7 linked regions of the Homo sapiens genome follow. The protein of the gene in region 1 purifies or fractionates together with the protein of each later gene. This does not show direct contact. Each region holds a gene or a part of one and is shown in the gene's direction. Other genes may lie near its edges. The genes, in order: CRHBP, ERGIC2, UBR2, PRR4, PLS1, PPM1B and TUBB1.

Region 1 (3,463 bases):
ATATGGAGTTTACAGATTTCCATTTTATCATTCCAGTCCTTGAGCTTAAAAAAAATGAAAAAAACATGTACACACATTTCTAAAAAAAATGATTACTCAACTGATTTAGAAAAGCAATTTTTATGATTTTTTCTCTTTTAAATGTCTTTTAATTTCCAGAGTCCCAGATGTTAAATTAAATGGTATTGCCAGGATGTTGAGGGCTGATTGAGTGAATTCATGGACCCGCTGTTGGTCAAATGGTTTGACTTCTGTAATTGGTTTAAATGTGTCTTTCTCTGCTGCTTTATTCCCTTAGAAATCCTCAGCAGGTTGCGAGGGAATAGGAGACTTTGTGGAGCTGCTGGGAGGAACTGGATTGGACCCTTCCAAGATGACGCCTTTAGCTGATCTCTGCTACCCCTTTCATGGCCCGGGTGAGGTATTTCTTTGATTGTTATGTATGTGCCTATCAAGATTAAAAAAAAATAAGCACTCCCCTAATATTTTCTACATTGGAAGGTGAGTTTCGCCAAAAAAGCCTTCAATTTTTCACACTGAGCCAGTATGAGGATTTGAGGCTATATATAACATCAGTATCTTTACCAAAATATCCGACACTGGGAGAGAAACCTTTGAAGCAATAAAGGTTGGCCTTAAGTAAAACTATGAAAAAGACAAAGCTTTTAAAATCTGCATTCTTTCCATTTTCTTGGGGGTCTCTGCTTTCATTTTCTAGAGACTAAAGAGTTTACTAACTGAAACACTTATGGTTCAAATAGTAGATGTATCATCAATTAGTAATAGGATAATAATGAAATAACTGTTTTTTATGTATGTGTATGTATGTGTGTGTGTTACTCATAGTAAATAAACAACAAAGTGATAAGCTTTATTAGAAATTCTTAGAACTGCTAAGTCTATAACTTCTTATGGCTAAACTAGCCTCTCAAAGGCCAGTGTAACACAGAGGTAAATTCTGAAATCTAAAAGCGGTCACCAGTAATAGAAGACTGGTTTATTTGGCACAGCATATGCCAAATAGAACCAGATCTATGTCAGAGACAAGTGAGTATTTTCACTTTTTTATGCTCATGTCAGGTGAGGATGGATGGGACTTCATGACCTCATGACCAGATAACTCAATGAAGTCTCGGGGAGGTGGGGGAGAGGAGTCATAAAACATTCCTGTAAAGGTCACTCCCATAGCTTTACTTCAGACACAGGAGTCCTAGATTAACATTAACGAGACAAAACAGAAGAAGAACAGCAGTCTCTAATCTCAGTTAATTCTTACTGTAGCCTCCTTCCTCTCCTGTCACTGCAGATCATTAACCAGCTAGGCAATGAAGCTGCAAAGCAGACAGTCCTCTTGATCAGCTGTTACCTGTAATAATTAAAACCAGGCCAGACCACCAGTATTTTCTGACTCTGAGTTGATGATGGACAAAACATCTCCAAAATAGAATTAACATACAGTCAGCCCTTCTTAACTGTGGGTTCCCCATACACAGATTCAACCAATTGTAATAGAAAATATTCAGCGTAGGCTAGGCGCGGTGTCTCACGCCTGTAATCACAGCACTTTGGGAGGCCGAAGCGGGCAGATTACTGAGGTCAGGAGTTCGAGACCAGCGTGGCCAATATGGTGAAACCCCCGTCTCTACTAAAAATATAAAAAAATTAGCCAGGCATCGTGGTGCACACCTGTAGTCCCAGGTACTTAGGAGGCTGAAGCAGGAGAATTGCTTGAACCCGGGCAGTGGTGGTTACAGTGAGCTGAGATTGTGCCACTGCACTCCAGCCTGGATGACAGAGCGAGACTAGACAGAGTGAGATTCTGTCTCAAAAAATATATATATATTCAGTGTAATTCCTGAACTTTGGGAGGCTGACGCAGGAGGATCGCTTGAGCCCAGCAGTTTGAGACCAGCCTGGGCAACATGGCAAGACCACACCCCATAAAATAAAAAAAAAGAAAAGAATCAGGTAAAAAAAAAACACACAAAAAAATACAGTATAACAACTATTTACATAGCTTTTACATTGTATTAGGTACTATAGGTAATCTACAGATGATTTAAAGTATATGGGAGGATGTGTGTAGTTTACATGGAAATAGGTAAAGGTAAAAGGTAGCCATTTACATAAGGGACTTGAACATCTGTGGATTTTGGTATCCGTGGGATGGGGAGCATCTTGGAACCAATCTCCTGAGGATACCAAAGGATGAATTATACAAAAGTCAGCACTAAAGCCTGATATGCACTCCACCCTCCCCCAGATACACCTATATTCTAAAAGTTTCAGATGAGATTTAAGGTAGGAGTGGGCTCAAAGCAAGCTTTCTAATCAAGGTAAAGGCAAAAGATTTCCAAAATCCCACTTTGCGGAAAACTAGAGGATTCTCTAATGCTAATTGACACTTGAGCCATGGTTTAAACTGTCAGTGCATGCGGCTTCTTTAGCCTTTTGGGTGCATGATCTGAGGCACTAAAGTACTTCCATGCTCATGATTGGAGAGCACCTTTGAGGAGATATACCTCAGCTGGGTTAAAAAGTAAGACAAGGATTAAAGAACAATCAGGCCTTACAATTTAGATAATTGAAGCCAAAGTCATTTTTCCGCTTGAGTGATATAACTTGAATTAGAAAAAAAGGTGATTCTAAAGCCAGAAAACCACTTTTGCCTACATTACCTAGGTAACTGAAACCACTTTTAAGACAATTTTAAGGCTTGAATTATATCACTCTTTGGTTCATTTTAGACTTTATTCCGTTACTGGAAGGAGGGCCTTGAGTGTAAGTTGTCCAGGTTCTTGGCGTTTTGAACAAAGAATTGGACAAAACGCACAAAGTAACAAAGGAATGAAACACAGGAACAAAGTAGCCGAAGCAGGGATGTATTAAAGGGAGAAAGCACTCCGCAGGGTGGGAGTGGACCCTAGCGAGCGGCTCAAGGGCCCGGTTACAAAAGTTTTCTGGGTTTCAAGTACTCCTTTCTTTTGTTTTGAGATGGAGTTTCACTCTTGTTGCCCAGGCTGGAGTGCAATGGTGCGATCTCGGCTCACCGCAACCTCCACCTATTGGGTTCAAGTGATTCTCCTGCCTCTGCCTCCCGAGTAGCTGGGATTACAGGCATGTGCCACCACGCCTGGCTAATTTTGTATTTTTAGTAGAGATGGGGTTTCTCCATGTTGGTCAGGCTGGTCTCGAACTCCTGACCTCAGGTGATCTGCCCACCTCGGCCTCCCAAAGTGCTGGGATTACAGGTGTGAGCCACTGCTCCTTTTGAGGTTCCTATCAATTACCCTTTATCTGGATGAAGGATTTGGTTTGTGGGTAAAGGCTGAGGTGAATTGGCACCCTATGCAGATGAAGAGATAGCCCATGCTTGTTCCACGGCCAGTACAAGGCACTCTCCCTTTCCTTGTGAGATGTGGTGGAAGGGGAGGGTTGTAGGGAGACTAGCCTTTGATCCGTC
Region 2 (3,160 bases), on another chromosome or scaffold:
GCAGTTTTTTGTAAGACTCTGTGGTATTGTTGGAGGAATCTTTTCAACAACAGGTTAACAACCATTTCCTTTTTGTCTAATTTCTGAAAGTGTTGCTTATACTTAAGTTGCTTCTTCTCAAAGGGGCAAGAAGTATACAGATTTTCATGTTTCGGTGTTTAAATAGCTTTTGCTTTAATTACAAAACTCCAAAATTATATTGACTAACCAGTAAACATAACTAATTTCATTGTATTCAATGATGTAAGGTAGATTATATAATGGTGAGTTGGAAAGATCCTGGGTGTTAACATCAGATTGAAGTAGAATTGAATGTAAGTTCTGTCATTTACTTGGTGGTAGCTTGGAATAGATCACCTACCTTTTCTGAGGTTTTCTAATCAGTAAAAATAGCAATAATAATACCTAATTTGCAAGTGTGCTATAGGATTAAATATGAAAATGCCTAGAAGGCATTTAAGACATTTTTAACTGTACAGTATGTAAAATCATATGTTATAGTACTTTGAATTATGCAATACATGAAACTAGATTTGTAATCAGTAACATGTTTATGATTTTTGTCCTGAGATCCTGGAATTCGCTAAGATTATTTGTCGAATTGTAATGATGAAAATTGGGAGTTAAGTACAATAGAGAAAAAGGAAACAATTCTATTTTCATCTTCAGTCCTTATTCAGTATTAGATGGAGCTGGGTAGTTTATTATACTTAGAATCATATTTTTAAATGAATGAATAGCTTTTCTTTCGAAATTCTTTGTTAGTGCTTCATTTCAATCTATTTAAATTTGTGTTGTTGACATCATTTATTTTCCAAAATTGTATTGGTGTGGGAAAACCTTGAAAAGATTGTGTTTAGGCCCGGTGCAGTGGCTCATGCCTATAATCCCAACACTTTGGGAGGCCAAGGCTGGCGGATCAACTTGAGGCCAGAAGTTCCAGATCAGCCTGGCCAACATGGCTAAACCCCGTCTCTACTGAAAATATAAAAAATTAGCCGGGCATGGTGGTACATGCCTGTAATCCCAGCTAATTGGGAGGCTGAAGCACAAGAATTGCTTGAGCTGGGAGGTGGAGGTTGCAGTGAGCCAAGATTGCACCACTGCACTCCAGCCTGGGCAACAGAGTGAGACGTCTCAAAAAAAAAAAGATTGTGCTGAGATCGTGAATTATGTGGCCTTGTGACTTTGAAAAGAAATCCATTTGTTTTAAAATCTTTCTTGATTATTTTTAACCATGGAAGTGAATAATGCAAACTGCTTTGTTTTCTTCCGTAATCTATTCCATTATAGTTATTTATTCTTAAATAACAGTTTAGGAAATAATTAAAAGCATAAACTTATTGTTTATTACAGGCATGTTACATGGAATTGGAAAATTTATAGTTGAAATAATTTGCTGTCGTTTCAGACTTGGATCCTATAAACCTGTCAATTCTGTAAGTGGTGTAGTATACATGGTGCTGATCTCTAAATCTTAGAATCATTGTTAAGTCTATGAGCCAGTCATGGTGGCTCACACCTGTAATCCCAAGACTTTGGGAGGCTAAGGCGGGAGGATCGCTTGAGCCCAGGAGTTTGAGACCAGTCAAGGCAACATAGTGAGAGCCCCATTTCTACAAAAGATAGAAAAAATTAGCTAGGCAAGGTGGTGCAAGCCTGTAGTCCCAGCTACTTGGGAGGGCACAGTGGGAGGATCACTTGAGCCCAGGAAGTTGAGGTTGTAGTGAGCTATGATCGTACGTACCACTGCACTCCAGCCTGGGTGACAGAGCAGACCCTGCCTCAAAAAAGATAGAGATAGAGAGATAGAGAAATAGGGGGAGAGAGAGAGAGAAATAGTAGCTTTTGGTTACTAGAAAGGATTGCCCAAAATAAAACCTTGTGTTTAGAGGAAAGAGTATAAGGAATAAAACTAATTCTTTGGTCTTTTTTTCCCTCCTTTTCTCCTTAGGTTCCTTTTGAGGATGGCCACACAGACAACCACTTACCTCTTTTAGAAAATAATACACATTAACACCTCCCGATTGAAGGAGAAAAACTTTTTGCCTGAGACATAAAACCTTTTTTTAATAATAAAATATTGTGCAATATATTCAAAGAAAAGAAAACACAAATAAGCAGAAAACATACTTATTTTAAAAAAGAAAAAAAAGGATAAAAAAACCCAAACTGAAATTCTATATACGTTGTGTCTGTTACAAATGTCGTAGAAGAAATCATGCAGCTAAACGATGAAGAAGCCCAACTGGAGTGTTGCTTTGAAGATGACGCCTTCTTATATTTTCATAGCAAATGGGTGGTATCAAAATCAGACATTGCTTCTTGCTGATAAAAAGCCTGAAGGAAATAAGTGAAACTACATCTATGGGAAAAAAAAAAACATTGAGAAGTGCAAATGTTCGCATCCTTTTGTTTTTAAAAGATATGATGTCAGAATAAAATGTGGAAAACATACGGAAAACTAGTCTAGACTTTAAAGAATTGTGATCAGGTCACATTGTTAATAAAAAAAAAAAACGGGCTAGTCCCTATGTTATAGCCATATTAATGTTAAGCCATATTGACAAGACCAGTTATCCAATAATTTGGTCTTAAAAAGTAACTACTTTTCTTTGAACTCTGGTTATTGACTTATCTAACTGTTGAAGATAGAGTCTTAGAAGACTAAGGTAAATTCTCACAGGGGCAGATATGTAGGTGTTATGTAACTAGGGTGTCATTCACAAATGGTATAGTAGAATCTTATACACGGAAAAGAAAGCACATTTTTTTAAAAAAGATGCCAAGTTTTTTAATCTAATCATTATATTATTGGTGTATTTTGGGCAACATAGGGTGAGTTATAAAAAGATCCGCTACTGATAGTGAAAATTACCGGTTTGTAAAACATTAAGAGAAAAAATAGGATATTTTATACATGTGGTGAGTGGAGAACAGGGTAACTTTAAATGAAAGTGTAAGGCAAATTGTAAGCACCACAAGATATATCAGATTTGAGAGGTGCCATGTTAAACATTGTCCATTAAACTATAAAACTGTATTATGAAGTATTTGCATTCAGGGTGTCCTGAATATGATTGATTCTGTATTAGATTGTGTTCTAACTTTCTTACTATTTAAGGATTGGTTCTAAATCTTCACATTATAAAAGATTAAA
Region 3 (3,500 bases), on another chromosome or scaffold:
AAAATTGAAGTCTTTTTTTTTTGAGATGGAGTCTCACTCTGTTGCTCAGACTGGAGTGCAATGGCACAATCTCGGCCCACTGCAGCCTCTGCATCCTGGGTTCAAGCGACTCTCCTGTCTCAGCCTCCCGAGTAGCTGGGATTACAGGTGCATGCCACCGTGCCCAGCTAATTTTTGCGTTTTTAGTAGAGATGGGGTTTCACCATGTTGGCCAGGCTGGTCTCAAACTCCTGACCTCAGGTGATCTGCCCATCTCGGCCTCCCAAAATGCTGAGATTGCAGGCATGAGCCACCATTCCCGGCCTAGATACATTTTTTAGCCTGGGCATTCACATTCAGTTGGTCAGCAGAGTCTGACAAATTCTCACCATTCCTTCTTCTACTTGTTTGGTTCAGCCCCATATTATTTCTTGCCTAGATTATCATAGCAGTTTTTACCCAGAATCTCACTCTTCTCTAATACGTTATTAGAGGGGCTCCTCAAAAGCAATCCTGTTCATATTCTTCATACTTTTACAAACTTCTTAACCTATTTCTCCATTATCACCTCCTGCCAGTTCCCACCCCTGTGGTCCAGACTTGTAGAATCACTGCCAGTTCCTCAATGCTAGTTCCCATGCCTTTGCACATTCCATTTCCTCTGCCTAGAGTACCCTAAGCAGACTGCTACTCTTTCAGATGCTGTTCAAGCTTTCCCTTCCCTTAGAAAGCCCTCTGAACCATGTACTGTGAGTTAGAGACCTCTCATCTGTGATGCCTGCCTCCTTCCCCACTTTCTTCCTTTCCCACCCCAGGACTTTAAGCTCTTTGAGAGCAGGAGGGGGAGAATGGGTTTTATTTGAAGATCTTCAGAACCAAGACCTAGTGTATATAGTAGGACCTCAATATTTATTGAACCAAACATTACAGAAAATTTGGAAAATGAAAAAACAAGCAGGAAGAAAAAAGTCATCAACTTATCACATACCCATCTTTTTCCATTAGCATATTTATGCTTGATTACAATTGGTACTCACATGTAGCTTTGTTTCTGCTGTATTCTTTAAATCAAGAGTTTTCTTATTACTGCTACTTAGTCCTCATAACAATTTTTAATAGCTGCAGGCACCCTCATTTGTACCACCATCTTCTTAGACAGTTTCCCCAATATTTGGAGTATCTCTTTAGGATACTCTACATTTTACGGAAGAGTATCCACATTTTAGAGGATCTCTTTAGGATAAACATAAGAGATATGTGTTTTAGGGTATCTGTTTAGGATAAACATAGAGAAATACTGCATCCGCATCTTGGCTTGTTTATTTGTTTTTTGAGATAGAGTCTCGCTCTGTTTTCCAGGCTGGAGTGCAGTGGTGTGATCTCAGCTCACTGCAACCTCTGCCTCCAGGGTTCAAGTGATTCTCCTTCCTCAGCCTCTCGAGTAGCTGGGATTACAGGTGTGAGCCACCACACCCGGCCTGCACTGGCATCTTGGGAGTGTCCCTTGCTTTCTGTCAGATGCGTATATTCTATATTCTTTTCTTTTCCAGAGAAAACCAGCAACATGGTGGCAAAGAGATAGATTTCATTTATTCAGCACACACTTAGACATTTCCCATTCCATTTATCCTGTGTTAGAGGCATGTCATTGAGATGTCATAGATCTAGTTCCATACCATCTAGAGCAGTTTCATTGTGCATCCAGCTGTGCTCTGAACTAGCATTCCTGAAAGAGAACTGCTTTGCATTTTTGTTTTTTGTTAATTGCGTTGGTTTATTTTAGGATGACTGTCTTAGGTCATTGACGAGATTTGCCGCAGCACACTGGACAGTGGCATCAGTTTCAGTGGTGCAAGGACATTTTTGTAAACTTTTTGCATGTGAGTATTAATACATTTATAACATGTTGTAATTTTTCATCCTCTGAAATTTTGTTTTTAATGGTACAGCTTCTCTCAGTAATGAATTAAATATTTAGTAGTACTGGTTTTCTTATATATAAGCTCTAGCTTATAAATTCTCATGTGTCTTGCAAGAAGATAAATTTAAAGCAGATTATATGCATTTTAACATGTTGGCATATGAAATATGCTAATGTATTTCTCTTTAAATCTGTAGCACTGGTGCCTAATGACAGCCATGAGGAACTTCCATGCATATTAGATATTGACATGTTTCATTTATTGGTGGGTATTGTGCAGTTTGTTTGGACTTCTACGTCATACTATGTAACTTTACCTTAGGTTTGGTGAGCAGTGTAGTGGCAGACAGGAAGGAGTTATGTGATTTCCTTACCCCTTCTGAGTATAATTCTTTTATGAGAAACCTCAAAAAGAAAATATTTAGGAACCTAGTTGAGAGACTTGACCTGGTTATCGAGACGTCCTCTGACTCTTATTTTGCTTTATGGCTGAGGTTAGTATTTTAACCTCTCTGTGCTTTTAACCTGTAAAGAGATAAAAACACCAGCAACGGGTCAGGTGTGGTGACTCATGCCTGTAATCCCAGCACTTTGCGAGGCTCACCCCAGATCACTTGAGGTCAGGAGTTTGAGAGCAGCCTTGCCAACATGGTGAAACCCTATCTCTACTAAAAATACAAAAAATTAGCTGGGCGTGGTGGCACATGCCTGTAATCTCAGCTACTCAGGAAAGTGAGACAGGAGAATCACTTGAACCCAGGAGGCGGAGGTTGCAGTGACCAAGATTGCATGACTGCACTCCAGCCTGGATGACAGAGCAAGACCCCATCCAAAAAAAAAAAAACAGCAACAGAAGCACTGCTGCTGGCCCATACAGTGCTTTTGTACATTTTCGAAAATCTGGCAGATACAGCCCTGTGGTCACACTACTTAGCAGCAGAGAGCCCCTTATAATTCAGGGAAAGGTATGTCCTCTGAGCCAGGACATCCTAGTGCTAAGACACACAGCTGTCCAAATAGTGGGTAGCCAAATTTCAGCCCTACCTCAACTGGGTTCCCTTGCACAGGGTACAGAGTGTACTGCCACACCCAGCAGCCCCGAGTGCTGTGCCTTTATTCTCTGGACCTCAGATTCTGCCCCTTTAAGTTGGTTAGTACCTACTTTATATGACTATGTCAGAACTCAGTGAGTTAATCCATGTAACACACTTAGAGCAATATATTCCTAATAAATGCGGCTATTACTGTTCTCATTGCTGCAACTAAAACCACCACCACTTATACTGCCATGCAGACAGCAGGAGGCCAACAGAGCTAGCATTTGTGTACCTGCCAGCTTTTACATACGTTCACACTTACATCTCTACAATTTACATGTAACATATTGTCTTTAGTTTACCAATAGGGAAACTGAGGCCTGATCAGAGATATTAATTTGTGTAAAACAGCTCATAAGAGGAGGAGGTAGGATTCATATCTAGATATTTATGGGTCCAAAACCCATGTTTTTTCAACTGCCTACAGTCCTGGAGAGAGTTCAGATACTGTTTTTGTTAACAATAAGCTATGTATAGAGGACCCACTGGATTAATGAAATCAT
Region 4 (3,999 bases), on another chromosome or scaffold:
AGAAGAAAGCAAGCAAAGAGAAGTACAGAACCTTGTTTAGAAAATCAAATAAAGATTTCTCCCAGAACGCATGAAGAAAGCAGTAAGATATAAAACATAGACATAGGGAGGATTGATTCACAATATAACATATCAACAAGTAAGGTTCAGCACAAGAGTGAAGAAGAATGAGTATAAGAATATTGCAGAGAAAATAATCTTTGGTAAAGGCAATCTGAGAAGCAAATAGAATGGAAACTAATTAAAAAATAGAAAATCAATGTAATACTTGAGGCTTTCAACAGGCTATCATACTATCTAATTAGATTGTATTATTGTGTCCACTCAATAACCAGTGTGATTAAAATATTTGGTACAAGAAGTAAGACCTAAACTGAATCATATAGAACATTCTAGAAAAGAGAAAGATCATGGAAGAAGTCTTAGGGACATAAAATAGCATGGCTTGTTCAAGGAACTGTGTATTCACACTGTTCTGATGCAGAAATCTAATGGTGCTTTCTGTGGCCAATTTTGCCTTACTAACCTCCAGGGTATTAATAAAGATAGAATGTTTTAATACCTGTGTTCTACAACAATAAAGTATCTCTGGTTAATGCTAGATTAGGAGAATCTTAATCTCTTTGGGCCAGAGTAGCCTGAGGGTAAAACTTCTGTCATCCACGTGTGCCCAAGTGTGTGTTGTCCTCACACAACTCAACATTAAACAGAAATGATCTCTATATTATTATGAAATTAAGCTACATATCATCCATATAGGTATATATGCTATAAAAATGGAATTTATGCTACACTAATAGCTAGAGATATTAATCATTTTCACTTCTGGCTATAAGATCACTGCTGACAAACATATACAAACGTAAGCACGTGTGCACACAGACAACCAATGAAGGGGAAAGACTAACTGTCTAACCCAATTGAAAATCAAATGATGACCAAACTTCAATTGTAGTATTTGTGCTGATTGCTTGGATACTGTTTCTTCAGAAACTATGCTCAAGTCACAGTTTGTACCTAACCACATCCTACCACCACATCCTGCTGGGCTAAAATCCCAAAAAGTAATAAGAGACGCATTCAACTTTATGAGAGGAAAGCAAAACCTAATCTTTCAGGTGGTGAGGTCCACCCAGTATGGAGCTCAAAGGTGCCATTGTTCTGCTCATGTTTATAAAGGGAGCTGCCATGTTTCTCTCAACGCAGAGTTGGGAGCAACTCCAGAGCCTCCTTCAAGATGCTGCTGGTCCTGCTCTCAGTGGTCCTTCTGGCTCTGAGCTCAGCTCAGAGCACAGATAATGGTAAAAAAATTATTTTTTTAAAAAAGGAGATGGGGAGTGGGATGAGGGGCCATGACTCTTCTAGGGCCTCAGGGGTTCACCCTACACCACTGCAGCGGAAGAGCAGGAGGGGAGGAAGGAGGTTGAGAAGAAGGGTAGGGCTTTGGAGCTCTCATTCCAAGGATGACATCTGTTGTGCCCTCATTCCATGCCAAGGCCTTATACTTTATTTGATATACACTTGGAACCCAATAGAGAATTTCAATTAGAGGAATGACAAAGTAAGATTTGTATTTTTAGAAAGACCTGGCTGTGCTGTGAAGGATGCAGTGGAGAATGCAAGACTGATCCAGGGAAGTCCAGCTATGAAGATGCTACAGTAATCTCAGTGGACAGCGATGATGGTGTCCTTGCTGTACAGGGGATGCAGAATCAATGAAAGAGATAAACAAACATCAGAGTACTGTCAGACATAGAGGACTGGATAATACATTTGTGTCTTTCTACATAGTGGTATAGAAATATCAGGTCCCCAAATTCCCATTTTTCTTCCAATCACATTTAAAATTTCAATATGTTGCAGGCAGCATGTGTAAGATTATATCCAAATATTTACTCCTGGTTGCTCCTCTTGGGCAAGCTTGTGAATATGATCAAAATATTTAAAGAAGGAAGAAGGTAAAGATCTAAAATATGACATGAAAATACCCAGAGAAGTGTGCCTAAATTAGCATTAGGGTTTGAGGGATCCTAAGGATGACAAAAAGGGACTCTTCTATTGAATTCGTGGTTGATGCTCAGCGATAGTAACAATCCTGCCTCCCCTAACATCTTCCTCCCCTTCCAGCAGCTTCACAGAACATGGTTGATGAGGTAACTTAGGGGATGCACAGGGTGTGGCCAGAAGACCCCTTTCCCTATAGACCACTATGAGCCCTGAAAGATTTATGAGGTAATGTTCACTTCATCCTGTGCTTCTTTTCCTAGATGTGAACTATGAAGACTTTACTTTCACCATACCAGGTAAATCCCAATGATCCTCAATCCAATTCTTTTCTTTCTTTTTCCACTAGAATTTCTTTTTAGTTTCCTTCAGTGTCTTCTTCTCATCATTTTTTTGGGAGGAGGTGGTAAGAGGGGTCAGGCATTGATTAATATTAGTGCCCCTAAATATATAGGCAATTCTTACCCATCTTTGATTCTGGGGACCATGAGCCAGGCCACCAACTTGAATACAGAGATGCCTGGCTTTGAGGACAATAGGAGTGGGCAGGCTTTTTTCCCAGGCTGGAATGACTGCTGAGAGATGATGAACAAATGAGAAGTGTTCTCATTCTGACTCCTCCATCCTTAACTGCTTCTTTCTTCCCCCAGTGTTCCCCCGCACGGTTATGTGGCTTCAGGGAGTAACACAAAACAAAACAAAAAAATCACTGCATGAATGTCTTTTCTCTGTGTTGACCCACTCAGCTGTGTCACTACAGATGATAAATAGTTGCCACAGCTGTTTAGTGATCATGTGCAGGCTTTCACATTGTCTTTCTCTTCTGTCTCTTAGTATTTCTCTACTTGGTTCCAGGAGCCTGGGAAATCAGCTCTAGTTTCCACATAGGGCTTAGGTGCCCAGAGATGGAGTCACAGTTTGTAAGTCATTACAGCAACCAAAAAATAAAAATAAAAAATAACCAGTAACATAACTGAAAGCTATAATGCTTTTGCTTTTTTTTTTTTTTCTGTCCTTGGAGACATCCTCTGGCAACTCTAAGATATGCAAGAACCCCTCTTTTCATTTAAGGAAACATACTTGTCACAGGAGCAAATAAATGAGACTTTCCATATCACTCTTACATGGATTAAGTTGAGAGCTGCATAAAAAGAAAAAAAAAACAGTGGGCACAAAAGAAGTTGACAGTCAAGCAGCAGGTTTGGGGAGAACAGGGCTGTGTGGTAAGGTGAGAGAAGTATAAAGAGAGGAGAGTTTTTCTTCACTGAGCTCATGCATTCTTGTCCATTAATTACTCACACAGATGTAGAGGACTCAAGTCAGAGACCAGATCAGGGACCCCAGAGACCTCCTCCTGAAGGACTCCTACCTAGACCCCCTGGTGATAGTGGTAACCAAGATGATGGTCCTCAGCAGAGACCACCAAAACCAGGAGGCCATCACCGCCATCCTCCCCCACCTCCTTTTCAAAATCAGCAACGACCACCCCGACGAGGACACCGTCAACTCTCTCTACCCCGATTTCCTTCTGTCAGCCTGCAGGAAGCATCATCATTCTTCCAGAGGGACAGACCAGCAAGACATCCCCAGGAGCAACCACTCTGGTAATCTAGAATTCAGTGGCAGGTATGATTCCAGTTCATTCTCCATTAAATGCCCAAACTGCTACCATTCCCAAACTTTATCGTGTTCACAAATCAATTGGAAATATGTTGAAATTACATAATCCTGGACCCCATTTCTAAAGATTTGTATTCAGATATTCTTGGATAAGGTTGCAAGTCCTTGTATTTTTAACAAGTGGTTCAAAGAATTCTTATCTTTTGAAATACTGACCTCCCCAACTTTTTTCTTAAGATGACTTGTCTCATTAAAATGAGTTGGTAATGAGGAAGTGGGGTGTGCTCTCCCTTTGGTGCTCTGCCTCCTGTCTTTGAGTCTGCCTTCTCAAACCCAAGGACTCTCCATCTCAGGTTTCTCTCAGGTTTCCGCCAG
Region 5 (3,500 bases), on another chromosome or scaffold:
TTGACAATAGTGGGTATGTCAGTGACTATGAACTTCAAGACCTGTTTAAGGAAGCAAGCCTTCCTCTGCCTGGCTACAAGGTGCGCGAGATTGTGGAGAAAATTCTATCAGTTGCTGACAGCAACAAAGATGGCAAAATCAGTTTTGAAGAGTTTGTGTCAGTAAGTAATCTAATCCTTTCGGGCTACTGATAATCTTGCTTAGAGCAGAATTGTAGTAATGTCATCACTAGCTTTGGTTAAATCCAGCTTCAGAGACCAGAAAAAGGACTGCTTTAAAATGATGATGATGATGATGACAATAACTATTATTATCGAAATAATTTCCACAACTAATTCATAAAACAAAGGAAAAAATTATTCTCAAATTGTTGGAATGGAAATCAGGTTTAGATAATAGTAATTCATTCCCTAGAATAACTAGGTGAGTTCAATGCTTATTGACCATTAATATAATTGAATAAATATTTATGAAATATAAATTGTCTGGTTTTGCATTCTTTATTGATTAAGCAGGTATTTTAGCTCTTCTCTTCCTAGAAATTTTGCTAGGCACTGTGAGTAATGTGATGAGTAAAAAGAAACGTGATTCCTGTCTTCATGGAGTTTATATGTGTGGAGAAGACTGCATTGCACAAATTGATAAAAGATAATTGGAGAATTGCTATGACAGAGTGGTACAGGTCCTGTGAGAGTTTGTGGTAGAAGGAATTGAATTTGGAGGCAAGGCTGGATAACCCAGGGACTCAGGGAAGGTATCCCTACAGTGTGAAGACTGTGATGTGTTCTGAAGAAAGATGTTAAACAGATAAAAGTGGGTTGTGGGAAAATGAATAATGTAGGAGGCAGGTAGACATGACAGCATGTGTAGAGTCCCTGTGGCTTTAGAGATGGTGAATATTCTCAAGCAACTGAAAGAAGGTTTGTGTGACTGGAGCTGAGATGGTAAGGGTAAGGAATGTAGCTGGAGAAGTAACTCAGAATCAGGTCACACAGGGCCATGTCGAATTTTTGTTTTTATCCTAAAAGCAATAGGAAGACAATGAAGTGGGAAGAATAGAATGTGAAGTGACAAGATCAGATTTGCATTTAAAAAAAAACCCAATCACTTTGCTGCAAGCAGAACTGATTGAATTGAGTCTTGCCAATCTCTGGTGAGTCCAGTGAGAGAGTGATTGGGAAAGGGAGTTTCTGTAAGCCTATGTTATTTCCTCTAAGAGCTGACTTATTTTATCATGAATGCATTTGAGATGTTCAGGCAGGAAAATATCTTCATTAAGGCATTCTTCTATCTTTAGCATGTAGTTAGTTATTTCTTAGGTTTTCAGTACAAAAGATTATGGCAAGCCAAGAAGAATAATTTCAGTGTGTTCAATTTAAGCTTAGTTATAAAAAATTTATTCCACCGTTTGGGGTTCAAGTATTTGTCTATTTTGTGTTATTGGTAAAATGATGAAAGTTATCTGTGTATACAAGCAATAAGTACAACTGACTAGTATTTAATTTGGTGTCATTTCAAATAAAGAAGTGTAAATAAATATCCATTTTGTCAGGTTTTTATTGATTATCTGATTCTCAATTTTACTTATGTTCCATTCCAGCTAATGCAAGAATTAAAAAGCAAAGATATCAGCAAAACATTCCGAAAAATAATTAACAAGAGGGAAGGGATTACTGCTATTGGAGGAACTTCAACTATTTCCAGTGAGGGCACACAGCATTCTTATTCAGGTAACTGACTTCTCCAAATTTGATCTTTTAGTCACTGATTCATTGATTAAGTGACATATTTAATCAGTTCTAAGATGCCACTCATTGTGATTCATACCGTTATTTTATGTGCCACTGAGGAGAAAAAAATACTGCAGACCACAGTATAACATGCCATTGAATTTGAAATACATCTCAGTTTCACAGATGTCAAAATGAAAAATCCTAGAATCATTGAAATCAATGAGTTCCTGCTGTGTATCAGGCTCAGTCTACAGAAACAAGATTATAAACAACAAAGTGGAAGTTGTTTATACTCCAGCATTAGATGTATTTAAAAGTGGCTTTTCAATGGCTTTTCATCCTGACTGATGAGGTGGCTTTACTTTTAGACCTGAGCTAGGAATGGGGGAGAGGCTTCTATCACAAGGATTTTTCTCTTCCATTTTCTGAGATCTGAGATACCCGATTCACCTTTTATCTAGTAACCAAGTGACTAGAGAGCATAGCACCTGATTTGCTTGATCTGATTAAACCACTGGACCATTGCCCAGTGGGAAATGCAGAAGCATATCAACTTTTAAGATGAGGTGTCTTCCCCGTGTTAAGTTATCTAAGATGTCTAAGAACCTTTGGCCAAGTTCTTTTTATTTATATGAACATAACTAGAACTATGCTTTTTGGCCTTTTGACAAAATTACCTGTAACCTTTTCCCCTCTTTCTTCATTTCAGATCTGAATCTGTTAATTATCCTCTTGATTCTGTCCCTTCCTAATTGGATTTTCCTCTAGCGATACACTCAAATTTCTCTCATCTATTATATGTTTTTCCTAACTTTTTCCCACTAGGGAAGCAGCCATAAAGGCAAAGGTCCATAACTGTTACCTTCACTTTTTGAAAGGTATTCACCCCTTAACCCAGTTTCTGCCTGTCAATTCTACTGAAGTGGCTTCTTTTTAAAGACAAAAAAAAATTATTAAGGTATAATACACATTCAGCAAAGTGCTATAATCTTAAGTATATGGCTCAATGAATTTTTCCATGTGTATATACATTCATGTAGCTGCCAACCAGAACAAGACATGGAATCTTTTCATCACCTGAAGACTCCCTCATTCCCCTGATAGTAACTATTCTTCCCTAGAGGTAACCTCTTTTCTGATATTTGTCACCATAAATTTTTGTTTACTTATTTTTTGAGGTATAAGATACTTGTAGTAAAGTGCATGAAGTGTACTTTTTTTTTTTTTTTTTTTTTGAGATGGCGTCTCGCTCTGTCGTCCAGGCTGGAGTGCAGTGGTGCGATCTCGGCTCACTGCAAGCTCCACTTCCCAGGTTCACGTCATTCTCTTGCCTCAGCCTCCTGAGTAGCTGGGACTACAGGTGCCCGCCAACACGCCCAGCTAATGTTTTTGTATTTTTAGTAGAGTCAGGGTTTCACCGTGTTAGCCAGGATGGTCTCGATCTCCTGACCTCATGATCCACCCGCCTTGGCCTCCCAAAGTGCTGGGATTACAGGCATGAGCCACCACACCAGGCTGAAGTGTACTATTCTTAAGTATATGGCTTGATGATTTCTTTTAACCTATGAATACACCTATATAACTATTCTCTAGAAAAATATATGGAATATTTAATGGCTTTTATAAAAAATAGCAGCTTTATTGAGATATAATTGACATACCATGGAATACATTTTTAAAGTATACAGTTCAGTAGTTTTTAGTGTATTCATAGTTGTGCAATTGTCATCACTATTTAATTTCAGAACACTTTCATTACACCAAAGA
Region 6 (4,098 bases), on another chromosome or scaffold:
CCCCGTCTGAGGCAGGAAAACAAGCACTTTTTTTTTCTTTTTCTTTTCTTTTTTTTTTTTTTTTTGAGATAGAGTCTCACTTTGTCACCCAGGCTGGAGTGCAGTGGTGCGATCTCGGGTCACTGCAACCTCCGCCCTCCGAGTTCAAGCGATTCTCCTGCCTCAGCCTCCCGGAGTAGCTGGGATTGCAGGCACTTGCCACTGCGTGCTGCTAATTTTTTGTATTTTTAGTAGAGATAGGGTTTCACCATCTTGGCCAGGCTGGTCTTGAATTCCTGACCTCGTGATCCACCCGCCTCAGCCTAACAAGCCCTTTTTTTTTTTTTTTTTTTTAAGAGGGTCTCACTCTGTCGTTCAGACTGGTGTTCATTGGTATGGTCATGGGTCACTGAAGCCTCAACCTCCTCGACTTAGCTCAACCTCTCGCCTCAGTTCCCCAAGTAGTTGGGACTATGGGCGTGTTCCTTTTAAACATTTTTTGTAGAGATAGGGTCTCATTGTGTTTCCCAGGCTGGCCTAGAACTCCTGACCTCAAGGAATCCTCCTACCCGTCTCCCAAAGTGGTGAAATTGCATACACGAGTCACTGCTCCTGGCCAATGAGGGCAACTTTTTAAAAAATAACATTCATCTGCTCTCATTTTTCTAATAAAACATTGCCATTTATTATATGGCTTTATTAGTGTTATCTTTGTTGCAAAAGTATATGTAATAGTCTCTAAAGATGGTTAAGAGTTTGTGTCACATCAACTGTATCAATAACCTATTTTGTATTTTATTTTCCCAATATTTTAAGATGAAAACTTCCAAATGTATTTAAAAAGGGGATATGATATGTTGGAACAGCTGTATATTGTCTCTCTAGATTCAACAACTGTTAACATTTTGCCATAGTTGCTTTATTTTTCTTTTTATATCTACTGTTTTTTTTCTTTCTTTGACTGAACCCTTTGAGAGAAAATTGCAGACATCATATTTTACCTGTAAACATTTAAGCATGCAGCTCTTAAGAATGAAGATATTTTTCAGCCAGGCACGGTAGCTCACACCTGTAATCCCAGCACTTTGGGAGGCCGATGCAGGCAGATCACCTGAGGTTGGGAGTTCGAGACCAGCCTGACCAACATGGAGAAACCCTGTCTCTACTAAAAATACAAAATTAGCCGGGCATGGTGTCACATGCCTGTAATCCCAGCTACTCGGGAGGCTGAGGCAGGAGAATCGCTTAAATCCTCGAGGTGGAGGTTGTGGTGAGCCGAGAACATGCCATTGCCCTCCAGCCTGGGCAACAAGAGTGAAACTCCATCCCAAAAAAAAAAAAAGAACGAAGACATTTTTCTGTATAACCATAATACCATTATTATACCTAAGAAAATTCATTTTTTTAAATTTATTTTTAATTTTTGTGGGTACACTGTAGGTGTATAAAAAAATAAATTGTATAATATTGAATATCAAGTTTAAATTTCCCTAGTTGTCACTAGAGTGACTATTGTAATTGTTATTTTGAATCCCAGTCTAATCAAGTTTATCAATCAAGCACATTAAACAAGTCTTTAATCAGTCAAGCCCCTCACCTGTTTTTTTCCCCTTGAAACTGACTTTGAAGAATCTGAGCCAGTTTTTTACAATACGTCCTGCATTCTGAATTCATATGATTGTTTTCTCATGTGTGCTCTAACTTGATCCTCTATTCCCTTTTTTCCTGTAAACTGGGAATTAGCATTATTAGATTCATTCTAAACATTTTTTGGCACGAATACAGGACATGACTGTACTTTATAATGCATCATATCAAGAGGCACATACTGTAAAGATATCTTTATTTTAGTCTGTCGGCTTAACTGTGATCAGCTTGGATGATTAGAGCTTGTTCTGTACAGTATTAAGTAGTTACTATTGTAGAAACCTGTAGATTTTCCAAAATTCACTAAAATATGAAAGGATTGAGTAGTTTATTATTCATACTGAGAATACTTAATTTATTTTTATCTAGAGATGTTTTTATCAAAATAAGAGCAAAAAGTAAATACAATTTTTATCCGTAAAAACTCTAAAATCTTTCAAAAATCTGTTTAAATCTATATAGTTTTATGTTTTGTATTTCCTACTTATTTAGCAGAAATGATGAAGAAACTGTTCTGATGGCCTGCTTTTCTGTCCTTTTCCTACTGCTTTAAACATTGATTTTCTTTTGTACTAAATCATATAGCCAAATATTGTTTAAGTAAGTCAGTTTTAGGAAATGCTTGTGTTGCTGTTGAATTATAAAAGCTGAGTAAATTTCAGATTAAACTTTAAATGACTGTGAAATAAGACATAAACTAGTTAATGGTAATTTGCTTAAAATGACTTGAGATTATTATTGGAAGTTTTTATTAATTGATACAGGTAAGAATTGATATTTAATAAAATGTTCTCATGCTTAGACTATATTACTTTTCGGTAGAGAAATTAGTATTTTGCTGTAATGTGTTATGAAATACATGTGATATCCTAGTTTGTCTACTGACACTGGGGTCTTGAATCTTAAAAAAAGGCCTCCGATGAAGCAGAGGAAAGTGGATCACAGGGAAAATTGGTGGAAGCTCTCAGGCAAATGAGAATTAATCATAGGGGAAACTACCGACAACTTCTGGAGGAGATGCTGACTAGTTACAGGCTAGCTAAAGTAGAGGGAGAAGAAAGCCCTGCTGAACCAGCTGCCACAGCTACTTCTTCGAACAGTGATGCTGGAAACCCAGTGACAATGCAGGAAAGCCATACTGAATCAGAAAGTGGTCTTGCTGAATTAGACAGCTCTAATGAAGATGCAGGGACAAAGATGAGTGGTGAAAAAATATGACTTTCCTTTTTGGTAATATTTTTGTGATCTTTGATGGTTTTTAACCTAGGAAGTGTAATGTATGCATTTATATAACTGTTTTGTTATTTGAATCTTGGAAAACTAGTTTTATTATATTCAGATAGCCTTGTTTTTTAAAAAGGCCTTTGCATACACCTTTATGAGATAGTGTAAAATTGACTATTTATAGTACTATGGATTTAATGAAATTATATGTCATTTCACATTGTATGCCAGAAATTAGGCTACCAATTATGAATTAAAGTCAGTAGTTAAATTAATACTAGATAGAATTAGAAATTTTGATTAGAGAGATTATGCTATATTATGGAAAAACTTGTTAATGTAGAATTATACTGCTTCATATTATTTTACCTATTAGTACACTCATAGTTAGCTTTGTAATAAATTTATGTTTTCTTTAATAATTTTAGTTCTTCAAAGAATGGCTGATGCTGGCCTGTAATTTTTCTTTCAAGGATGATAATTTGTGTGTTGTTTGATTTGTTTATATTTTACATCTCTGTAGTTTTATTTTTAGAAGTTGTGAGATATTGGATGTGTGGCTATTTTTCCTTTCTCTGTATTCTTTATGAAACATAACTTTTGAAAAACCTATGTATTATTCATACAGCTTTGGTTTGTATATTCTGTATAGCCTAACTACACACATCAAAATGTATGTCAACCAAGTGTTTAGAATGAAATTATAAGTGTTTAAGTCCAAATAAAGCATGTGATGTGGAATAATCTATGCATGTTGTACTTATTTTTGAATTAATTTTTTAAAAACAACCAAGTTTGGTATATTGGAAGAATACCCATTAGAAATTCATTTGTATTTATATAACATTTAGAACACTTTTGGCTTACCTTTTTTCATTAACAAAAAGGAAAAGTTTAATATTAAAATATATGTGTTGCATACTTAAATCTATTCTTTTTCTTATCCATCTTTTGTGGTACAAAATATTAATCTTTGGACATTATGGGCACACATTAGACATGTGAGAAAATTGCCACAGTGAGCATTTTAAAGATTGCAGAATTGTCCATTTTGTTACAAATTTTTGTTAGTTATTAAGAAATTGAACAATTATGGGCTATTTTTAAAATAGTGGCAGATGAGAGTTTTTGTTTAAAGGGATTTTTAAATTATAGATTTGTCACATAGGGAAAAATATTTTTTAAAAATTATTTTATAACTGTAGAACATTAACTTTTCGTCTTTACGTTTATATTTATATCATGTGT
Region 7 (2,363 bases), on another chromosome or scaffold:
GAAGCTGTGCCGCGGAGTCGCTTACAGAACAGTTTCTCATTAGATGAGTGTTTCTCCTGCAGCACTCCAAAACCCACTCTGCACTGCAGCACAGTGAATGATATGCACTCACCATTAGCTTCGACACAGGGACTGAGGGAGACAGGTGGGGAGCAGCTGACAGGCATTAGGGTCTTTGCTGACATCTACTAACCTTGAAGAGTTTGATGTTCAGTGCATACTTATTAACTTAAAAAAATAGCAAATTTATTGTAAAGTGCTCCCTTTGTTTCAAAGTGTTTGCCAGGCATCCAGACTACACGTGTGGATTTGCAGGGAGCCACTGGAGTTGGTGTTACATTTTTATACTTTAGCAGCACTGATAGGCACCCTGGAATCCTCACTTGGTATCCGAGGGCTACTAAGACTCTTTCCTTAGGTTCTTTCCTCTGAGCAAACACTGACTGGCATCCTGCTTTCCAGTGCCTGCCAGCCTCCAGAAGAGCCAGGTGCCTGACTAGTACATGGGGAGCTACAGAGCCAAGGTCAATGTGAGTCAACATCCACTAGAAATATCCATGTTGTGTAGACCTGTGCATACAACATGCTAACTGGAAAAGAGGAAAAAAGAAAAGCCACAGTCCTCTCCACAAAAATACCTGGTCCAAACAAGAAAAACAAAAAGACAAGCAAAACTAAAGAACTGCAGTCTTCTGATCTTTATTTCTGAAGAGCTAGCCTTTAACATATATGTTTATATAGTTTAAATTTCTTACTACTGTTAGATCCCAGGAATTCATTAATAATCATCCTTGGCTTTCCTTTTAAAGGCTATTTTGAAATGGTCTTTTCACTTTCATTCAGTCATCACCCCCCAAAATGCTCTGCAGCCTCTCTGCTCTTTGAGAAAGGGCACACCATGCGCTCGGCAACCATTCAAATGCAGGAATTAAGCAGCAATGGCTGCAGTGTCCTTCTCAGTTATGGAGGACATCGTCTCATTAGGGAACTTTTACAGTTCAAATTAATTTGCAGAAGTTGCCATAAATGTTTGCATAATGACATAGCTTTAAGCACTACATGATTTTAATCTGCTCACATTATAACAGGACCAAATACACAAGAGCGTAATCAAATCATCTGTAACTTCTTAATTACAGTTTACCTATTTCTGACATGCAGCACTGCCATCTCTTCCAGCACCATCAGGGTTTTAATGGCCCTCTAGAATTACCACTGAGATACACTATTTGATCCATGGATAACCGGTAATGGGAAAATGCTCCGACCCTCAATGCAGTAAATATTTACTTGCAGGCAACTGGGTTCTCATCTCTTGATTTGCTTTTGTAATCAGCAATAATAAAATAGCAGGTAGATGGATGACAGTTGCTCATTCTGAGAAACTTCACTCTTTTCACTTATGCATCACGAGGAAATAACTAAAATACATACCAAGAGAAAAATACCTTGCCATCGGATCATCAACAAGTCTTCTATTTACAAACTTCAAAAAACACAAAACAACATTCATGTTTTAAATGCTTTCTACTTGTGGTTCAAGAAGCACTAGATTTAGTAAGAAACTCTACCTATATACTTAGTTTGAAGTTAGTAACTTCCTGAGATGCTAAAGACTTACAGCCTGCGATTATACAAGGATTTACACATGCTTCCTCTGGTGCTTTACTTCCCAAACCTAAAAAAGCAATGAAATAGATGTAAGGAAGGAGGGATTTAAACCTTTTAAAAAACTTTTGCTGACTTATATTACTGTAAAGATTTGTTTGCTCAATAGTAATCATTAAACTACAAAGTAATTCAATTTTAAATGGCAAAATTGCTTTATTTCAGACTAAATAAATTCCTTTTCTTGAAGCCTAACCATCCAGACTGAGTAGTTAAAAATATTTAGAAATGCATCTCACCATCCTACTCTTTCGTATGGTAGAAATAGATGTAAAAACACAAAACAAACTAGAAACTTAAGAAATCTGTCCCTTTTGATTTTGAAGAGCTTATCCTTTAGCAGTACGGTTGCTCCAGCGACCTTGGTCTCTCAGAGCAGCAGCATCACCGAAATTTAGAGCTTATCCGATTCCTTCACTTTGCTCACAAGAACGATGTGAACTAAGAGATTAACTGACAGCTTCAAACATCATCCAACTAATTAGTGGGATACTCATTAAGTTGGTCTGACTGGGGTCACCTCATCACTGGGCACAGTCATCCTGCCAGCTACCCAGCACTGCTGGAGGCAGGAAGTTTATTATACTACTGGTTTAGGATTTTTTTTTAATCACGGAGAAAAGAGCCTCTAAGAATCTCTGCTGACAGTAAACTTGTCTTTTACTCAGTGACTTCACTCCTTTCCATATCACAAG

The links.
Region 2: the proteins of CRHBP (region 1) and ERGIC2 purify together in Homo sapiens (affinity purification with mass spectrometry; one large-scale study listed by BioGRID and IntAct). This does not show direct contact.
Region 3: the proteins of CRHBP (region 1) and UBR2 purify together in Homo sapiens (co-immunoprecipitation; 2 studies listed by BioGRID and IntAct, with this or other methods). This does not show direct contact.
Region 4: the proteins of CRHBP (region 1) and PRR4 purify together in Homo sapiens (co-immunoprecipitation; one large-scale study listed by IntAct). This does not show direct contact.
Region 5: the proteins of CRHBP (region 1) and PLS1 purify together in Homo sapiens (affinity purification with mass spectrometry; 3 studies listed by BioGRID and IntAct, with this or other methods). This does not show direct contact.
Region 6: the proteins of CRHBP (region 1) and PPM1B purify together in Homo sapiens (co-immunoprecipitation; one large-scale study listed by IntAct). This does not show direct contact.
Region 7: the proteins of CRHBP (region 1) and TUBB1 purify together in Homo sapiens (affinity purification with mass spectrometry; 3 studies listed by BioGRID and IntAct, with this or other methods). This does not show direct contact.

The regions. Positions count from the first base shown.
Region 1 is NC_000005.10:76,963,045-76,966,507, forward strand, and holds part of CRHBP (corticotropin-releasing factor-binding protein), read left to right. Parts: intron 1-298; coding exon 299-416; intron 417-3,463. UniProt on the Homo sapiens protein: Binds CRF and inactivates it. May prevent inappropriate pituitary-adrenal stimulation in pregnancy.
Region 2 is NC_000012.12:29,340,013-29,343,172, reverse strand, and holds part of ERGIC2 (endoplasmic reticulum-Golgi intermediate compartment protein 2), read left to right. Parts: coding exon 1-53; intron 54-1,356; coding exon 1,357-1,439; intron 1,440-1,954; coding exon 1,955-2,017; 3' UTR 2,018-3,160. UniProt on the Homo sapiens protein: Possible role in transport between endoplasmic reticulum and Golgi.
Region 3 is NC_000006.12:42,672,029-42,675,528, forward strand, and holds part of UBR2 (E3 ubiquitin-protein ligase UBR2), read left to right. Parts: intron 1-1,762; coding exon 1,763-1,859; intron 1,860-2,097; coding exon 2,098-2,165; intron 2,166-3,500. UniProt on the Homo sapiens protein: E3 ubiquitin-protein ligase which is a component of the N-end rule pathway.
Region 4 is NC_000012.12:10,846,676-10,850,674, reverse strand, and holds the start of PRR4 (proline-rich protein 4 isoform 2 precursor), read left to right. Parts: upstream 1-1,199; 5' UTR 1,200-1,237; coding exon 1,238-1,301; intron 1,302-2,267; coding exon 2,268-2,303; intron 2,304-3,307; coding exon 3,308-3,612; coding exon of another isoform or gene 3,613-3,630; intron 3,631-3,999.
Region 5 is NC_000003.12:142,669,393-142,672,892, forward strand, and holds part of PLS1 (plastin-1), read left to right. Parts: coding exon 1-161; intron 162-1,600; coding exon 1,601-1,730; intron 1,731-3,500. UniProt on the Homo sapiens protein: Actin-bundling protein. In the inner ear, it is required for stereocilia formation. Mediates liquid packing of actin filaments that is necessary for stereocilia to grow to their proper dimensions.
Region 6 is NC_000002.12:44,227,875-44,231,972, forward strand, and holds the end of PPM1B (protein phosphatase 1B), read left to right. Parts: intron 1-2,118; coding exon of another isoform or gene 2,119-2,127; exon of another isoform or gene 2,128-2,538; coding exon 2,539-2,844; 3' UTR 2,845-3,598; downstream 3,599-4,098.
Region 7 is NC_000020.11:59,024,792-59,027,154, forward strand, and holds the end of TUBB1 (tubulin beta-1 chain), read left to right. Parts: 3' UTR 1-1,863; downstream 1,864-2,363. UniProt on the Homo sapiens protein: Tubulin is the major constituent of microtubules, a cylinder consisting of laterally associated linear protofilaments composed of alpha- and beta-tubulin heterodimers.